Homo sapiens: one gene and its partner. The protein of the gene in region 2 interacts with the protein of the main gene of each other region in a pairwise test. Each region holds a gene or a part of one and is shown on either strand. Other genes may lie near its edges. The genes, in order: BACH2 and MAFK.

What was found.
Region 1: the proteins of MAFK (region 2) and BACH2 interact in binary tests that used the Homo sapiens proteins (3 or more experiments, as listed by UniProt).

Annotation. Positions count from the first base shown.
Region 1 is NC_000006.12:90,290,233-90,294,049, forward strand, and holds part of BACH2 (transcription regulator protein BACH2), read right to left. Parts: exon of another isoform or gene 2,251-3,817; intron 1,714-2,250; exon of another isoform or gene 1,018-1,713; intron 1-1,017. UniProt on the Homo sapiens protein: Transcriptional regulator that acts as a repressor or activator. Binds to Maf recognition elements (MARE). Plays an important role in coordinating transcription activation and repression by MAFK.
Region 2 is NC_000007.14:1,540,456-1,543,614, reverse strand, and holds the end of MAFK (transcription factor MafK), read right to left. Parts: 3' UTR 572-3,159; downstream 1-571. UniProt on the Homo sapiens protein: Since they lack a putative transactivation domain, the small Mafs behave as transcriptional repressors when they dimerize among themselves.

The DNA of each region.
Region 1 (3,817 bases), on a different chromosome or scaffold from region 2:
GGCTTCCCCAACCTCCCGACCAGGTTAAATCTGCCCATTAGACACTCTGGTGTATGAAATACTTTCCTTCACGAGCAGTGGGTTATCTGTTACTAACTGATCAGTGCCATTCTTCCTACCAGATGACGTGCTTCATGAGACCAGGGGCCAGGACTGGGTTTGCTCCCCATTAGCACTGTGGTCACTTAACACTATGCCTGCCATGTAAGAGATACTCAGTATATATTTGTTTAATGAATGAATGAGGCATCTGCCTCTAAGCAACAGTATTTCTGGACACTTGGCCCATTTTGCACTATCCACGAGCTTCTGTTGCTTAGAAGAATACAGGATAGGAAAAAAAGAAAAATTGCCAAAAATCTATGGATACTGAAATACTAAGGAAAGATGCTGAGCATGTACATTCACTTTGTTTCCTACTTGTGGAATGGAAATCATCACATTGGGATCTCCCAACTTTAAAATCCGAAGTGAAGGTCTAAGCTGTCTTTGGGTTAGACTCCTGGAAAGTCTTGAGGAAATTCCTGAAGTATCTGCAGAAAGTGACAGGGGAGGGAGAATAGAAGATGGCCCAAGACTAGAGTGATGGAAGACTTGGAAACTCGAAAAGCTTTCTTCTAACTAACTGGGACTTTGTCTACATGCCAGCTACAGGCTCAGGCACACATGAAGAGAATAATGAGATGAATGGGAGGACTGGAAAGTGGAGGATTTAAATGCTTAGGAAAGGAGCCAATGAAAGCTGACACAAGGACAGGAGGGACCTAGCAACCAAGCGCCGGCTCTCATCACATCAGCAGCAGCATGTCCTACAGCCTTCAGGAAAAGAACAAAAAGGTCAGGGAGGAAAATGACACATCTCAGAACCAAAGGGCAATTCATTATGAGGCTAAGGAACAAAGGAGAAGTCAACCAGGGAATATGCTGAAGAAACGGTGATTATGAAGTCACTGGGGAAGACTGAGAGGCATTTTGGCTGTAGTTCCAATGACTAGAATGAAGGATGATGTGAAATGCTTTTGGATTGGGAAGATTTATTATTTTGGAAAAAAAATAGCTCAAGGAAAAACAAATGGCAAAATTCCTGCCTGAATTTTGAAGTAGTGTCACTAGCAGGATGAGGTTCAATTTATACATTCTTTAGAAATGAAATGGCCCTTGGAAAAGACATAGTGGTAAGATTCGCAGGACATTTCCAGCCTTACGGAAGCTGAGTAGCATGCTGATAGTAAAATTAAGTTTCAGTTTTAGATAGACTGACATTTGAAATTAACAAAAAAAAAAGTAAAGGGAAAAAATTAAAAGACCCTGAACTGACAAAAAAAAAGAAAAAAAAAAGCAACTACTGTCTTTTTTTTTTAAATTAAATGTCATCACAAACAAAAAAAAAAAGGTGAAAGTTGAGTTGTATTTTGGGCAATCTTACTGAGTTTACAAAATGTTTAGTTCATAGCAGGTTTCAGTTTGGACATGAACAGTTTGTAAATATTTACATAAAATTTAAAGATAGGAGGACAGCAGAGGTCATATATTGCTATTAACAATACAGAAGCGATTTTCCGTCATTCCCAAGGCCTTGGTGCTGCGTTCCCATATGTGGCCCCAGCTCTGCCAAAAGCTTGTCTTCTTTTCCAAAGAAATTCCAATTTTTGCAACCAGCATTGACTTCTGAACTGTGAGTACCTCTGACAGGGTCATATGTCGCTGAAACTTCTTCAACATCCAGACAGGGAAAGGAGAAAAACAGGGAGGCAGATTTACAGCGTCTGCTATCTGAATTGCAGATTTTGACAAATATGTTACATTTTATATTGTTCTCTGTTCTATGTGAGGGCAGGGACCATGTTCTCTGTATGTCACAGTCCTACACCATGCCCAGTCATTGATTCAGGACTGGACTGTGTAATGGAATGGGGAAATAACCTTCAGACATTCAAGAAAACATGCACTATATTCAGATTAAGTTCATTCCAACATGAGATTAGTTCTTCCAACTCTGCAGAATGGGCAGGCACGACACCTACTTCAAAGGGTTGCTTTGAGGAATCAATGAAGTACATTCAGGCAAGGTAGTCAGCACTGGGTCTGGCACATGGTGCGGATTCAGTAAATCAAAACTATTATTTTGGTGAGTGTTCTCAAATGTCAAACTCCCATGGAGGTCCTCAGGCATTACCCAGCCAAGTTACCCCATCTGGTCAGTAACAACTAAATAGAGGGCAGGTGGTTCAAAAGTAATGGATTATTCACCTGCAAGGAATCACACTGTACTCATGGTATTAAATTATTCGGCCTTTCATGTCGAATTCTCTGTTAAAAAGGAAGCTGATCAATCCCTGAGTGGGACTCAATGTTGATTTGAAGTTTTGTTTTTTTGGCATCTTTCTATTTTCCAGGTAGTTGTAACCATTCATTGGGTGCATACTCACAAATCATCCACTATATGCCAGGCCTTTAGAAAACAGAGACACACAAAGATATTAAACAAAAAAAGATGTTTCAGTCTGTTCAGTAGTGGGAGACAAGCAGCCCCCAGGCCGACACTAGCTCTTACATATGCTTTCATCCAAAAATTTTTTAAAGATTTGAGCCAATATTTAAAAATCAGGAAATTCCACATAAATATCCAATATTCAGCTTCCCCTGGAAAAATCAAATGATGTGGCAACACAAAGCCAGTAGTCCTACCAACTGTTCCCTAGCAAGAGTCTACAATGAGTTGAGTAGGGGCGGCCTGCCACTCCACACTATGCCCTGCTCCTCACCAGAACCAGGTAAGTACATAATTTGCAGGGCTCAGTGAAAAATGAAAACGAGGGGCCCTTTGTTCAAAAATTATTAAGAATTTCCGAAGAAAACAGCAGAACCTTATACCAAATATGAGGTCCTTCTGAGCAGGGAAGAGGAAGGGGGCCTATGTAACTGCACAGGTCTTATGCCCATGAAGCTAGTACTGGCTCTCACCCCCTGGACACACAGGAAGATATTTATTTATCTAAGTATTCTCTCATTCATTAACAATCAAGCCTGCATTTACAATAAGCTAGATGTCACACCCCTGAAATCTGAGGTTCAAAAACTAGAGTAGAGGGGCCAGGCACAGCAGAGATAGAGAGCCACTAGGGTCTCTTTCCTTTTTGTTAAGACTGGATCCACACCAGAGACACTGAAAGTTAATCCAAGTAAAATTAAACTGCTCTCAACAATACAGATTGGCTTGAGCCCTTTTGTTGGCATCACAGGAGCCTCGATTAGGAATTCTGAGAAACAGCTCACAAGCGCTAATGAATAACTAAGTCCTGTCGGCTGTGCAGACAGTGGGCCCAGAAGTGAAGGGCTGGCCTAGGAGAGATCTGAACATGAACCTGACCATCTGGCCCTCTGTGACTCACTTTGATCACAAAATGAATTGCAACAAATTGAAGAGCACATGGCTAGAGTTAATTGTCTCATCTGTAATCTGAATCTACTTTTAAGCAGTTATTATTACCCTCTATCAGGTGGAAACATTTCCTACCATCACTGCAAAGTGCATTTTCCTGATGAACTATAATGGATCATTAAATTCCATATCTGAATAACAATACTGTGCACTTATTCAGTGCCTTTCATCCAGGGATTTCAAGGCAGTTTGCAAATAATTAAGCCCCTTACACAGCAGCCAGAGGTGAGCTACTGGAAAAGAATTGCCTGAAGATACTAAGTCAAAGGGCATAATTCAATAGGAAAATAATAAATGGCTTTCTCCCAGGCACTGGTAATACAGAAAGTGAATCCTGATCCCCTCCCTCTCTTTCACCTCACCCCTTCTTCTTCA
Region 2 (3,159 bases):
GTCCAGCACTGAACAGCGTTCACACCTCGGTCAGCTCAGCCCCAAAAACGGGGAAGGCCGGGCGGGGTGGGGACGGCATGCGGGCAGGCCCGTGGCTTTTCGGAGGAGTCCACGGGCTTCCGGCCACTGTGCAGGGGCGCTTTGCTCTCTGCTCCCAGACAGACCCTGTCTTGCTCACAGCTTCCTGCAGGCTCCTCTGAGAGTCCAGCAAAGCTGGGCGAGATGTCTCCCAGGGAAGGGGAACACTGACAGCCGTGCTGCTCTCTGCTCCTTCCACTGGAAGGGAGAGGCTGCATGGACAGGGGGCTCCGGGTGGGGCAGATGGGGACACTCAGGACTGCGGCCTGACCCTCAGAGACTGAGCCCAGGACGTGGTCACCTGACCAGCACCTCCCCCGTGGCTGTCCCAGCCTCACGGTCACGGCCCAGCAGTCCGGGAAAGCCACTTACACGTAGTGCCCGGATCCTGACCCCGGTGAGGGACAGGCAGGGTCCCCTGGGATTGGGGGGGGGGTGTGGTTCTTGGCCCAAGAAAGCCCCAGCTGAAAGCACCAGCTACGCAACGAAAGGGTCTGAAACCAGAAAATTCTTTATTGCAAAGGTACAAAAGCAGTCACAGCAGCAGGACGCACGGCAATAAATTAGGTGGTGGCCGCAGGGACGGGGCAGGGCGGCGGCGGCCAGACACGGGCCCACATGTGATCTGTTTTCAATAATTTATATCATGATAAAAAGCAGCACAAAAAATAAATAATGAAATGGAACTGCCAAGTAGCACAGAAGCCAGGGTGAGGCGGTGTGGCGGCGTGGCGGCATAGGGGGCCGGGGTCCCCACGCCCTGGAAACGCAAAGACCTGGATCTCTTTGGGAAGCCGGAGGCACGGAGACAGAAAACAAACCCACGTGACAAAGAGTCCCTCGTCTTTTTCTTAAATAAAAAAATCCATATATTAAATCATGACAATGAAATTTCAACAATCTGAAAAGAAAAGCAGAACACACCGTGCTTCCCCGGCCCAGCTCTGGGCGGTGACAGCGGCTCCGTCCACCCTGGGGACCAGGGAGTCCCTTCTCCAGCAAAGCACTGCAGGCCAAGGGCAGGTAGAAGCCCACGGCCCACAAGACGTGGACACCAAGAACCCCAAGACGGGACAGAACCGGCCACCCGCTGCGGCCTGTCCTGCGGGGCCCAGCTGCCTGGTACAGTCCGTGGGGAGATGAAGGGGGACGGCGGGCAGCCCGGGCCTCCGCTTTGCTCCCAACTCCCACCTGTGCCCGTGCCCCCGGCTCTGCTCTGATAGATTTACAGTATCAAACTGGAAAAGAAAGATTGTTACGAAAAATCTGTAGATAAACTGTGAATATAATTTTATATCTCTATATATTTTCTGTTTCTCTCTTTAAATATCCCCCTGGTCCTTATGACATCCAATATGGATTACCTACCACGGCCACGGGGGCAACGGCTGTTTGGGAACACGCAGGCCTTTGCTCTGTAGGGACCCAGTGGTCCTGGCGGGCCTGCAGCTTCCCACTCAACTTCTAACAGTAGACACAGAACCAAGTCGCAGCCCCGGGGCTGTCTGTCCTCTGCCCTCCCAGCGTGGCTGGCACCCGCCTGGGCTCTGTAGCTGGTGGGGGCTGTTACTGGGTGGGCAGGGGCAGCCGAGAAGGAGCCAGGGCCCCAGGCACCACCTTGCAGGTCTTATGTGGCGGCCCCCGGCCGGCGGCTCACATTCCGCCAGCTCCCCCAGGCAGGGGCTCCGCAACCCCCGCGGCTCTCGCTGCAGAGACCCCAGTCACAGGAGGGACCCTCAAGGCGGCTCTCCAGGAAAAGGAAGCCCAAGGTGGAGTGCCAAGCCCACTGGTGCCTCAGTGCTCTTGGAAGGAGGAGCAGGCAAAGGCTCCGGGTGAGGACTGAGTGCTGAGGCCAGCCACACCTGCAGCCCGTGGCTGTGCTCCTGGGGGTGTGCGCGCAGGAGCCACGTCCACGAAGCTCTCCTGGACTGGTGCCTGCTGCCTCCCCACCCGCCGCGCCCTCTGGAGTGCCAGGCTCACTCCTGAGCTCTTCTACAAGCCAGCTGCATCCTGGTCCTGCCCCTCAAGGCTTTCCACCTGCTCTCGCACACGGCTCCCGCCTCCTCCCACCACTCCACGCAACGTCCTCCTCCTTCCACCTCCACATCCATGTCCACCAACATCCCCCAGGCTGCACCCCCTCTCCCTAGACTGCAGCAGCCCTTCCCCTCGCCAGGCCCCCAAAAGACCTCCTCGTTCCCCCTGCACTGACCACAGTTGGTGAGAAGTAGCTCCAGGACACACAGCCTGAGTCCTGCTCACCGTCAAATGATGGGGCGCTCCTGCCTGTGTCCGCTGAGATCCGGGACGGCCTGTGGGGTCGGTGTCTGGGGGGCCGGATCCCGTGGGCAGGGGCTTCTGCGCTGTGCTGCACGACCTCCTCGGGTCACCAGAGCACAGGGGAGACCTCACGACGTGTGAGCCACTCTCTCTGCCATGTGTGCCCACAGGCCCTCCCCCAGTGAACACCAGCAAGCTGCACCCCCTCAGCCCTGCTGCTTTGATGGCAGGCGTGCGTGCACACACACAGACACCACCCCACGCAGGCGACCTCCCACACCGTGCCCACTCACGCAGGCCCCTGCTAAGGCAGACGCGGATCACGGGCACTGCAACGGGACAGCTGGAAGGACGGAGCTGCCGACACACCATCCATGCTCCTCCCCGGGGACTGCGGAGTCGGTCAGGGCAGTGAGGGGCTCCCGCACCGGCTGGGAGGCCGTGGCAGGACAGGTGTCGAAGGCTGCTTACAGCAGGAGTGGAAAACAAGCCCCATGCTAGACCTGACCACAGGGGCCTGACTCCTGGGGCCGTGTCTTCCGGCAGCCCCCACAGAGGACGCGGAACTTCCCGAGGGCCTTTCCATTATATGTCCCGACTCCCACGGGTGCAAGATACCAATTCCCACACACAGACACATCCTGCGGGGAGCAGGTGGCGGGCGTGAGTGTGTCTGTGGACCGGCGTGCAGCTCTGGGCCCACGGGAGCCCACTCTTCACCCTGCAATACAGTCTCTTCCTGGTGTGAGCTGCCTGCGCCCGAGGGGCCTGCGCTTGGACTCGGATGTCGAGAGTCTGCAT